3 separate regions of the Homo sapiens genome follow, and all the other regions are reported to be linked to region 3. Evidence: microRNA targets listed by miRTarBase, many of them from high-throughput screens and not tested one by one. Region 3 holds a microRNA gene; each other region holds the end of a gene's coding sequence.

The links. The annotated mature microRNA hsa-miR-885-5p reads UCCAUUACACUACCCUGCCUCU and lies in region 3 at 2,876-2,897, shown strand. An mRNA with a match to its seed (bases 2 to 7 or 8) in the 3' UTR can be bound and repressed. Matches are read on the target gene's strand: a 7mer-m8 pairs with bases 2 to 8, a 7mer-A1 pairs with bases 2 to 7 and ends in A, and an 8mer does both.
Region 1: miRTarBase lists TENT2 as a target of hsa-miR-885-5p. Seed matches in the 3' UTR shown: 7mer-m8 at 1,308-1,314.
Region 2: miRTarBase lists STAMBPL1 as a target of hsa-miR-885-5p. The part of its 3' UTR that is shown has no 7-base or 8-base seed match.

The regions. Positions count from the first base shown.
Region 1 is chr5:79,684,635-79,688,878 of GRCh38, forward strand. TENT2 (terminal nucleotidyltransferase 2) reads left to right here. Exons shown (of 15, transcript NM_001114394.3): 15 at 565-3,612. The coding sequence ends at 639. Among named protein-coding and RNA genes, the nearest start is that of CMYA5, 3.1 kb to the right of the region's middle.
Region 2 is chr10:88,922,790-88,926,988 of GRCh38, reverse strand. It overlaps STAMBPL1 (STAM binding protein like 1), which reads right to left. Exons shown (of 11, transcript NM_020799.4): 11 at 3,502-3,821. The coding sequence ends at 3,765. Among named protein-coding and RNA genes, the nearest start is that of ACTA2-AS1, 7.8 kb to the left of the region's middle.
Region 3 is chr3:10,393,184-10,397,427 of GRCh38, reverse strand. MIR885 (microRNA 885) reads left to right here and starts at 2,866; the gene lies at 2,866-2,939. All of the region lies in intron 5 of ATP2B2 (ATPase plasma membrane Ca2+ transporting 2), which reads left to right. RefSeq lists an enhancer at 1,735-2,331.

The sequences.
Region 1 (4,244 bases), not on the chromosome of region 3:
TCAAATCCAAAGGTTTTGTCTTAATTACCTTGCTACTTTTAGATTGAATTAATCCGTGAATAAATATTAATATTGTCAGTTGTATCTTTCAGTACCACCTATGTGCCCATTTCTTTATTAATGAATTGGAACCATAAAAATATGGAGTTTTTAAATAACATTTTCTTTTCTGATGACAGAAACAATACTTACACTGTGTTAAAAACTTGGAAAATAAAAACTTAGCCAGCCTGGGCAATACAATGAGACCTTGTCTCTACAAAAAAATTTAAAAATAGCTGAGCGTGATGGCATACGCCTGTAGTCCCAGCTACTCAGGAGGCAGAGGTGGGAGGATCTCTTGAGCCTGGAAAGCGGAGGTTGTAGTGAGCCGAGATTGCACCACTGCACTCCAGCTTGGGTGGCAGAGTGAGACCTTATCTCAAAAAAAGAAAAAATTTGAAGGAAAAAATTATTCAAAATTTATCACCTAGAGAGAACCAACTATTAACATTCTTTTAAACTCTCAGTCTTTTGTTCTGCATAAATTTTAGGTTTTAAGAATGATTTTTCTTTCTCTCCCAGTCATGGCACAGATTGAAAAACAAGAGAGATTTGAACAGTATACTACCTGTAAGAGCTGCTGTCCTGAAAAGATAACTGGCCTCTATTTCTTAATAAATTCTTCCAAGAAATAAAGAACAATAGTTTCATCATAATACATTATGTTTACCTCCATCATAGTTGCTTTTTTCATAGTTCTTGTTTTCATGTTTTATTTTTAAAAAGACATATAAAGATTGCATATTTTATTATGACATTTCCTAATAAACCCCTTTGATTTAAAAATGTATTTTTAAAAATGTTTACATTGATGATGAGTAATATTGCATGTGTTTTCAGGTGATCAGATAAAATATATTTTGGGAAATTAACTGAACAAATAAAAAGTTTTTGATATAACTTCAATTAATTGTACCACATGCTAATCCTGAAGAGATGTGTAGAATTTTGGAAAGGGTCTAATTCATACATGCTTAAAGTATAACCTACGTTAGATAGTTTGTTGTCAAAGTCTGTTCTAGTAAAGTGAAGATTCAAGTCAGTTGTTCAGTTACTTGAAGCAAAACGAAATCTTTCATTTCAGTCAAATCACTGCAGTCATGAAATACTGAACAATTGCCTTAAGTCTTTGCTTGACTCACTGGGATAGACTGAGGCTTTGGGTGTGTCTGTATTAGCATTTCATTAGTACTTCACATGCTTTTGATGTACTCTTGAGATTGCTTTAAATTTTGTATTGAAACAACAATACATTTTGCACTGTAGTAATGGGAGCACTAACTCTTACAACAGTTAGTGAATCGTTTTAAAGAATCAGTTCAGTGTAGACATTTTGAAAAGATTGTTTCCTGTGCTTTACGATAGCTTAGTGCAATGTGCACTTCTGTTTTACTTGCCATTTTCCTGCTCTGTTTTCTCTGTGACATGAAGCAACAGAAACTGAGATCAAAGTTAAGATTATATCCTGTTTGTAGTATCAGATATTTTTCTGTGTACAATTATAGGATTGTAATCTAAACTGGAATTTTTAGGCAGTAAGTCACCACAAAATGTTTTAGATAAGACACAATAAAATTATTATAAATAAAAGCTTAATGTTTGTAAAAAATCTCTTTTTTAGTATTTCTTTTTTCACATGAAAGAAGTGGTGGCTGCTAAAAAAAAAGCTACAGTGTTTATTAAGGGTCTTTTTGATTTATGTAAATATTTGTAAATTGGTCAGTGCCTGTAAATTTAAATATAAAAAGTAACCTTGAAAACAGTTTTAACTTTTTCAAAAGAACTATGTCCAACATTTTTTAGACCTGCTGTAGTACAGTTTTGTACCTCTAACGTATTTTTTTTTTGCAGACCAAATGCTAAAACTTTTGCTTTTCTTTGACTTGTAAAAGGTGCACATTTTCATTTTCTTCCTTAAGTTCAAATTTTTGTATGATGTCAAATGCAATAAAATTTATATATGGACATTGTTGAGGTGCCTTTTTTTTCTGTGAAAATCTTTGCTTTGAGATGAGACCGAGGCTGTAGTTATCATCTAGAACTGAACTAAATCTACTTATTAGCCAGCTAACGACATCAATATCTTATGTCTCTGGCATTATGAGGAATGAAAGTTTACACATAGTGAATTTTTTAGATTCCTGATGTGTAACACTTTTTATGCATTTGAGCTTTTCATATTTTGGGGGGGAATTTTTCCTAAAATTTACACTGTGCATCTCTTAATCAGAATGTACTGAGTAGAGTTAATATTCTAGTGATGACTGGGTAATCATTATAAGCATTAGTCATAGTACTATTCAGTAATACTGTGCAACTTTCAGGGATGGGTAAGTATGTACCCTCTGCCTCTACAGTATTATGACATTTCCTAATAAAACCCCAGAATTTACCATGGTGTGGGTTCCTTCACTGTCACTGTTTTCTCAGTTTTCAGTGGCCCCACACTTACTACTGCTTTTCTTTGTTTTACCACGAAAAACAGATCAAGAAGTCACTAAACTTAGACCCAATTCTATATCAGTAGACTGAGGCCTGAAATTATGCACACATAACTGGCCAAATATCAGATAAGTGAACTGTTAATATATGAGAGAATTTTCTGGACTTTTAAGTTATTAATCTCAATTATTTGTGTGGTGAGTACTAAATTATTTTCTGTTTGTGTTGATCTGTCCATTTCTGTATATAGTTGTCCCTCAGTATATTGAGGGATTGATTCCAGGTCAACCCCGTCCTCTTCAGATACCAAAATCCACAGATACTCAAGTCCCTTATATAAAATGGTGTAGTGTTTGCATATATCCTACACACATTCTCTTGATACTTTAAATCATCTCTAAATTACCTGATACGTAATACAATGTAAATGCTATGTAAATAGTTGTTATACTGTATTGTTTAGGGAATAATAATGACAAGACAAAAAGTCTATACCTGTTCGGTACAGATGCAACCATTCTGCCTCCTCCCTACCCCCTCCCAAATATTTTTCATCCTGGTTGAATTCACAAATCCTACATGGTTACGGAGGGTTGACTGTATTTGCATATGTTGTTAAAGTGGTGTTTAAAATGTGCAATCTGTACTACAATTCTAAATTTTGGATTGATTTGAACTAGGATCTTTGCAAATAAATCTCATAGACATTAATGTTTGTAAGAAATTTTTAATTAAATGATGGAAGGAACATAGAATGGCTACCTGTGATTTTGATTAGTGTTTAACAGATTGCCACAGCTGTGATTGAATTCCTTTTGTACTGGATGAGCATGGTCATTTGGGATTACTGATGGTGAAGTCTAGCTGGTGTTAAGAGAATAAATATTGCTGATGCTAAACCTGGTTTAGTGAGCTGTGGAAGCCTTGACTCTGCTGTTTTCCCTCCTTATGCCCCACTAGCTGATGTATCTGTACTGTAATTCAATGATTTACAGTTCATTACCTCCAGACATAATGCATGCATACCAGCTCGTGTAACTGGTGAATAATCCCCAGCTTACAGTCATATTTAACAACTCTGTGACTTGCTATAATTAAAAATAAATGTTAACTCTTCTAGCCATCAAATCATTCTCATGAAATGAATATCTTTATTGTAAAGTTACCTCCATTTGTACATAGCAGTTCTGGTTCTGTTCTCTTCAGGGAGCATCCATTATATGTACCTGCTATGTGCTAGCTACTTTGCTAGTGTGTAGGCTTGTAAGAGATGGGGATGATGGGACAAAGAAGAGTAGTAAACTTACGAAGTCTGCTGGGGAAGGAGATACAAACATAATTTGAATATAGGATTATGTGGGAACCTGGAAGAGAGGTACTGAGTTTAACTTTGGGATTTCAGTGAAAGGTGGTGATCTTGAATGATGGGTATCCTGGTAAAAATGGGACCAACCTTTGAGGCAGAAGGAATTGTGTTAATAAAGACACAGTGGAGTGACTTGACAATGTTGGGAACTCCTGACTTCTAAAGACACCTGACCAGCTGGGCGTGGGGGCTCACACCTGTAATTCCAGAACTTTGGGAGGCTGAGGTGGGCAGATCACCTGAGGTCAGGAGTTCGAGACTAGGCTAGCCAATATGGTGAAACCCCGTCTCTACTAAAAATACAAAAATTAGCTGGGCATGGTGGTGCGCGCCTGTAGTCCCAGCTACTCGGGAGGCTGAGGCAGGAGAATCGCGTGAACCCAGGAGGTGGAAG
Region 2 (4,199 bases), not on the chromosome of region 3:
TTGATGTGGTTGCAATGTGAAATGAATTGGGAGAAAACAGAAGTGAACCAGTGTGGCGCCAAATAAAATGTCAAATTTCCACAAGCAAAATCCTACTAAAAAGAAACTAGGAACAATTTGAGTAGCTGAGAATAATCCACAAACATTCTGCTTTGCTCTTCTACAACTGACAAGGCCTATGGAAAGAATGATTTCTGCCCTGCATGACAACAAAGAAAGCCATTTCCAATTCAGTCTGTAAGAGAAAAGGAAACAAACAACTTCAGCAAATATTTACCGGATACTACATTAGTTTGTGAGGGCTGCCAAACAGAATACCACAGACCAGATGGCTTAAACAACAGAAAATTATTTTCTCACAGTTCCGGAGGCTGGAAGTCTGAGATCTAGGTTTTGGCAGGGATGGTTTCTTCTGAGATCTCTCTCTCTTTGGCTTGCAGATGGCAGTCTTCTTTCTGTTTTCCCATGGTCTTCCTTCTGTGTATGTCTGTCCTAATCTCTAATTATAAGGACACAACTCATACTGGATTAGTGCCCACTCTACTAGCCTCATTTTAACTTAATTATTTGTGTAAAGGCCCTATCTCCAAACTCAGTCATATTCTGAGGTATTGGGGGGTTAAGGACCTCAACACATGAATTTGGGGGACACAATTCAGCCTATAACAAATACACATGAGGTGTCAGGCACTGTGTGCAAACTGACTAGCACTGAAAATCAAAGGAAGTTCTTAATTGTTTCTTTTTTTTCTACAGAAACACAAATCTGAAAAGAAATGAAGAACCATCTTTGCCTTAGGATGTGGCAAATGGAGCTTTGGAACTGATTCATATTCAAAAGAAGGATCTCCTGCCCTAGCAACACAGCAAGACCTCATTTCTACAAAATAGAAAAAAAATAGCCAGGTGTGGTGGTGAGTGCCTGTAGTCCCAGCTACTCGGGAGGCTGAGATGGGAGGATCGCTTGAGCCTACGAGATCAAGGCTGCGGTGACCCATGATTATGCCATTACACTCCAGCCTGGGCAACAGTGTGAGACCTTGTCTCAAAAAAAGAGAAGGTGCTGTCTGCCTGTTGTGAAAGAGACCTTCCATAGATAGTTTATCCAATGAACACTGGTGCTCATGCACATGTGTGTGTAGTGGCGTCTCCAGGTTGGTTAACAGGGTCTCTGCCTCACGACCAGTCCATTACTTAGTGATGTGGTCACATTTCTGTTGGTTCTTTCAGACACAGCCCCAGGGCCTCATTCTGCCAGCCAAAGTCAGGCTCTGGTTTGCCGCCTCCAACAGTCCCACTCTGTGAGATCCTGGTTAATTTGGTTTGTACTTGGCAAAAAAAAAAAAAAAAAAAAAAAAAAAAAAACCTACAAAAAAGTGCCAAGAATGTCTCCTTTATTTAGGAAATACAATATACTTTCTTAGTGAAAATGAGTTCTCTTCTAGTTTGCTATTCAGAAGGGACATAATGGTTTTGCATACTCATAGCTTCTCTTTCTAGTCTTTCTGGAAATCTAAGATGCTAAATGTTCTTGGCCCTCAACTGAGTCCTTTCTATCTTTAGGCACCATTCAATGTCCATAGCTTTTTCATCGGACAACTCTCATTTTACATCCTCTTAGTGTATTACTATAATTTTTAATTCTATACAAAGGATCTCACTCATTTCTCAACTATCCATTGTCCCAACAATTATTTTTACTTGAATAAAGAATATAACATTTTCCTTTGATCAAGCATATCAGAATATCATGGTGTGTTTAAGTGTTAAGACACTGAGGACAGCACCACTCAGGAAAAAGTGAGGTGTCTATGGAGCCAGCCTTGCAGAGTTAATCTGCTCTTAACTAGTGGTGGCCATAGACTAAAGTCTCCATGCACAAGGCAAGCCAAGCTCTACTTCTGAAGTCTGATACCTGAGCTCTCCATAGCTAGAAGATTCCATGAAACAGAAACAAGCCACTGACTTGCCCATAGTAGGTGGTTCTGTATAAATGAGAACAGGAACAGAATTCAGGTGACATGATACCAGAATTGAGAACTAGACAAGCAGGGAGGGTTGATGCATTAGTCCATTCTCATGCTACTATAAAGAACTGACCAAGGCTGAGCAATTTCTAAAGGAAAGAGGTTTAATTGACTCACAGTTCTGCATTGCTGGGGAGGCCTCAAGAAACTTAAAATCATTGCGGAAAGGGAAGCAAAACACGTCCTTCTTCACATAATGGCAGGAAGAAGTGCTGAGCAAAAGGGAAAAAGCCCCCTATGAAACCATCAGATATCCTGAGAACTCACTCACTATCATGAGAACAGCATGGAGGTAACCACCCCAATGATTCAATTACCTCCCACCAGGTCCCTCCTACTATGATTTAAGATGAGATTTGGGTGGGGACACAGCCAAACCATATCAGATGTTAACCCATCCAAGCACAGAGTACAGGAAATACCACTCTGGAATATGGAAATCATTGAACTAAGCAGTGGAAGCTAGTACATGGAAACATGAGTTGTTTAGGCAACTCAGATACAATGTCATGAGGAAAGCAAAGGCAGGGAGAGCTGTGGCTGGCACAGAAGACATTGGGAAGACAGAAGGTTTCATAGGATTAGTTTGGCCCTGTTGAAAAGTTGTGGAGATCCAGGGAGAGATGGCTGGAGAAGGAAACTTAAACGTTGAAAAGAAAAAAGAAGAAAGCTAGACTAGAGTAATGTAAGGCCCTAAAGGATGAAAAGGGAGACTAAGAAGTGATCACAAGTTTCTCGATCAAGGAAAGGGCTGTCAGCCCAGGATTTCCCAATGTGCCTGGGAGCAATGTCTTCCAAGATAAAGATTTCACCTGCAGAACTAGTCTTCAGTGTCCCAAAGGACCTATTCTCAAATAACTCAACAATATCACTTCCATTCTGCCCTCTGTGTATCTGCAGCTAAGATTTCTCCACACTGTTTCCATCCTCAGGTTTTTCCTACCAATTCAACTTGCTAACAGAGTTAGCAAGTTGACTAAGAATTATCAGTTATTTCTTATGTCTCATTTCTTCTTCCTATCACCCCTGTTCATTTTCACAGTAACAGGTTTTGTACTTTTATCTGAGTCTTTTTTTAAAAAAAAAATCCTCTCTCAAGCTTCTCTACTTTTAGTCTTCTAAATCAAATTAATGAATTGTCTGCTATCCCAGGCCCTCTGACACCTGATCCCTGAATAGAAGTGTTGTTCTTGTATCTTACACAATGATTCACTGCAGAGATATCTCTCTGAGCCTGGGATTTCATGACACTGAAAACACAGAACAAGCTTTATCAATGGCAGCCATATTTCATCTACACATGGAAGCTGTTCACCTACCTCAGGGGAAGGTTTCAGAAACAGATGGTCTGCTTTGGAGACTATATACACTCAGAATTTCTTATTTGGAATTACATTTTACATGAATAAAAAATATAGCAAATCATCTAAAGCTCTAAAAATGTATGCAGAGACCTCTATAAATACAAGACATGTTGTTTGCAGCACAATTTATTATCTGGCCATAGTATTTGGGTACATTATCAGGTACCGATTTAACACCATGTAACCTCTCTTGACACAGAGCAACCCAAAAAGAAAACTTTAAAATGTGCAACAGCAATAAATATCAAGCTTTGTCATCTAAAATGTATAAATATAAAATATCAGTCATTTCTGGAAACATCTTAAGAAAATCCGGCAACCACATGTCCATGAGTAGGTGTCTGATGTTGACGGTGCTTACATTCAGAACATATCACCTCAGATCCAACACAATTATTTTTATGTCTTTTACCAACACATGTTTGCATATCTAGGAAAGAAAAAATTGGTTTTACCATATGTTTGATTTCACCATAATGTTTACCATATGATTTTCTTTAGGGAGGAAGTATAGATTTCCTAATTTTAATTTGTTCCTGATTTTTAAAATATTTCCAATCAGAACAAATACAATCACATTTATTCATTTTCAACAACAACAAAAATATTTACAGGGGTTGCCAAATAATTTTCATTTTAAGTAAATTCTAACGTCAATATAATGTTCTCTGATGTTATAGCCACAGAACCTCCAAGAAAATTAGGAAAAAAAAAGGCGTAGTCAAATGTTTCTTTTGGACTATGCAAAGGTAATCAAGAAGTATGATCATAGTTTCCATCAATTGCTATGAAAAAACTAATTTGGCCA
Region 3 (4,244 bases):
GCACTGCACAAACCATCTCAAATAAAATGAAGAACAAAATTTGTCGACCATCCCACCACCCAACCGGATCTCACTGGTCTCACTTTTATAGGCCCTGCTGTCCTTGGCCACATGCAGATAGACGACACTACTATGTAGTGTCATTTCTGCAACAATCCTCTTGCCCACGCAGGTCTGAGCAGCCGGGAGCTCTGAACTGGAAGCTCTCAGGAGGTTGTGCCCAGCTCACCCCTGGGCCCTGCAGACCTTAGGCTCTGTCCTCCAGAGGCAGTGGGGAGAAGCTGAGCAGAGTGTCAGGCTGAGCTGAACAGGACCTGAGCTCTCAAGCGAACTTGCTGTGTGGCCTCAGGCACATGGCTTCACTTCTCTGAGCCCATTTCCCTGGGAGGACAATAGGAGTGTCATTCATGATATGATGTAAGTGGATCCCCTAGCACAGTGCTGCACAGGGAGGCTCAACATAAGTTGGTTCCCTTCCCCATTCCTTGGGTGAGGCCTGGACTTGGGGGTGAAACAGACTGGGTTCCAATCCCAACTCTACTCCTTAGCCAGGGACCCCCAACAAGCTTCCCCCCCTTTCTGATTATAGCCCCAGCTCATGAGGTTGTGTTGAAATCTGGAACCTCCAGAAATGTCCATTTCGCCCTCTCATCCTTCATCTCAAATGTCTCCCCTTTCCCACCTCTCTGGGCTACCCCCTTCCTCTTCATCATCCAACTCCTCCCTACCTTCAGCCTGCAGCAGCCTGCCTCCCCCAGGGGGTGTTCCTTGATTAGTTTCTTCCCCAGTGTTCTGAACTCCCTGCATAACAGCCATTTGGATGCTCATTTTTATGCACAACCAGACACCATGGGCCCTTTACATCAGCGGGGAGGCCTTGCTGGGCCTTCCAGTCTGATGATCCTTGAGGAACAACACAGAGAGACCAGGCTGGGGGCATTTGTGGTGTCGTTATGGTGGTTGAGAAAGCCCTAGTGTCATCTCATGCACTGTTTCAGCTTAGAAGAGGGCAGGAAACACTCCGCTCTGGTCAGTTGGTCCAACCATGCTTGGCCTGTGACCCTGGACAGGTCCCTTCACCTCTCTGAGCCTCTGTGTCTGTGTCAGTGCAATGGGGAAGCTGGTGAGGCCTCCACTGCCTGCCCCACAGGGCTGTTGTGGGGACCACAGGCATGCACACGTGTGACTGTCCTTTGCAAACAAACCCTGCGGTTGTGAGGTGCTGTATGGTGTGGAAGGAATGTGGCATCTGGAGGCAGAATGCCCAGGTTCCAGCCCTCCAACAGCTCCCACTGTGGCCTCTGCCCCTCAGAACCTCAGTTTCCCCATCTGACAAGTGAGGGCAGACCAGCCTTCAGAAAGACTCAAATGACCTCAACACTCAGGGCACCAAGGAAATCATCAAAACCAGGCAGGTTTCCCCTACCTTCCTACCCTCCAGGGACGGACAGGCAGACACGAGCCCATGTCTGGTGTATCTTCAAACGGGACAGAGTAAAAATATTCAGAAATTGCAAACTCATATGTCTGCAGGGCCAGGTAGGGAGAGCACAGGTGCCAAACCCAAACCACAGCTGCTTCCTGTTGCTGCCTGCAGAAGCGCCAGCCCAATCTGACCTCAGTGCTCACTTTGCAAGAGGAGCCAGAAATCCAGATTTCCCTGTACCAGCTCTCAATGTTTAAGTATTGGCAAGAAATTCCCACATTTTAAGGTCCCTATGGGTCAAGCCACATATGGGTGGGACCTAGAGTGCAAACTCTGACCTAGGCCTATTTTTTAGCTTTGTATTTTAAGATAATTTCAAACTTTCAGAAAAGTTGCAAGGATGGCACAAAGAATACGGGCATGCCCTTCACTCTGATTCGGCTGTTGCTAACCTTTTGCCGTCTTTGCTCTCTGACAAATCTCACTCTCCTCCTCATCATGCAGATGTGATGGCCTTCTCCCGCTAGACACTGCAGGTGTGTCTCCCAAGAGCAAGGGTATTCTCATGCATAACCACAACACAGCCATCAATTCAGGAAACTTGACATTGATTCGGTACTGTTACCTGCTGTGCCATCCATATTCACATTCTGCCAATTGTGCCTGCAGCGTTCTCCAGGCCAGGATCCATGTGGGGTCCTGCATGCCACTTGGATGTCCTGCCTCTTTGGTCTCCTGCATGGAGCAGCGCCTCATCTTTTCATTGTCTTCATGGAAAGCCAGTGTTTTTTAAACCCTCCTAGGTCATGAACTTCCGTGAGAGTTCCACTAAAGCAGTGACCCCTCTTATAAGGAACAGATGCCCAGACTCCTCATCTTGCAACATTTCAGGGGATTCAATGATCCCTAGAGGACCCTGGTCCTATCCCAATTTGCAGCTGGGGAAACTGAGACCCAGAGCAGAAGTGTAAGGCCCCACAGAGGGCAGGGGCAGGGCGGAAGCCAGACCCCAGCTCTGGGCTCTTCCTGTAGCCCCCATGCAGGAGCCTGCCTCCTTGTAGTAACTTCCACTGGGAAATGCAGGACTAGACTAGATGCCATCAATGTGGCAGTGGAAGGGGCTGGAGCCAGGGGGCCAGGATGGCGGGGCTGTCTTCAAAAAACAGCAAGGCCTGGCTCCAGCAGGCCCGATGGCTCAACCCCCGCGAGACCCCGACACACCCTCCTCCCTTCCCCCTGCCAGCCAGAGCACTAACAGCATGAGGTCATGCAGGACATCGGTAAACCCTCTTGGGACTCTGCCCACATCCCAGGACCTGCTGCCCACCCCACCAAGCAGAAGGCCAGGCATGGGAGAGCCGGACCTGCCACCACTGCCACCGTCTCCAGGGAGCCTAGGACGACACCGTGACTGCAGAAGGCCCAGTCTGCTACTCGGCCCGCACTCTCTCCATTACACTACCCTGCCTCTTCTCCATGAGAGGCAGCGGGGTGTAGTGGATAGAGCACGGGTTCAAGTCCCGGCTCCACCACTCACAGCTGTGTGACCCTGGGCCATCACTCAAGCTCTCTGAGCCAGAAAGTGGTGGGTGGAGGGGCTGGGGATTGAACTTGCGCCAAAACCTACCTCAGGGGGCTGTTGTGAGGGGGACACTTTGCCTACTGCCTCGTGCTCTGTGAGCGTGTGTTATTAACTGCATTAATAACAATAATAATGGAAGGACTGTGTCTGGGCTGGGAATCGTTTTGGCTTTGTTTAGTGCTTGTGCCTGGAGGCAGATAATAGCCCCCAGAAATAGCCTCCATCCCTTCTTCACAGCCTCTCCCCACTGAAGGAACCCTTTTAGAAGAGATGAACTCTCCCCTCTCCCTATCCAGGGAGAGGCCTAAAAGGTCACACGCAAGAGATCAAGGAACCCTAGGTCCAGCCCCTACTGTCCTACACCCTCTGCAACTTCAGTCATTCGCCTTATCTGGGCTCAGAAACCCCATTTTGTAAAAGGAGGCTTCCCAGTTCTGCTACCTATGGCTCAGCATACCCCACAAGCCACAGCAGAAGGCTTTGACTCCGAGACTGCCACCATCTAGACCAGCTCAGGGCAAGGGAAAGCCACCTCCTGCTGTTCAGGACAGGCCCAAGGCCAGGATGGGCTTTGAGCCTGCAGCTGGGAAGGTCCTGGCCACTCTCTGCTGCCAGGTCAGAGACCAAGGAACATCCCCTCCACAGGACCAGGACAGGACAGAAGCTTGGGCAGGACAGGACAGACAGTACCATCCACGGAAACCACAGTGTTCCCTGAGCCTGGGCTCCCATTTCCTCCCACTCATGGGATAGCTGGCAGCTCCCCACCACGCTCTGGCCCCCCTTTCTCTCCTTGGGGCTGCCCCAGACAGCTCTCCCACCAACTTTGTCCACAAGGTGGAAAAAGCACAAGATTGGAGCCACAGACCAGCTCCCATCCCAGCTCTGCCTTCCTGGGCTGAATGCAGAGGTGACCCCCTGAGCTGATGCCCTATCTGTGAAATGGGGTGAGGCTGACCACCTCACAGACTGTGACAGCTGAGCGAAAAGTGGCTCAGATGGAACTTGGCACATCATGAATGCTCAAAAGATATTCTCTTCCTTCCTCCCCCTCCACCCAAAAATACTCTCAGCGGCTTCCTATTGAACACCAAGCAAAGACTCCACTCTGTCACCCTCCACTCAGGCACCTTCTCCCTTCGTGGGCGCTGAGCTTTGGCCCGGCCCGCCCGCTACCATCACACTGGACCACCTCCCACCTTTGCCTGGCTGTGTCCCTTCCGGCCCGCCATGTCC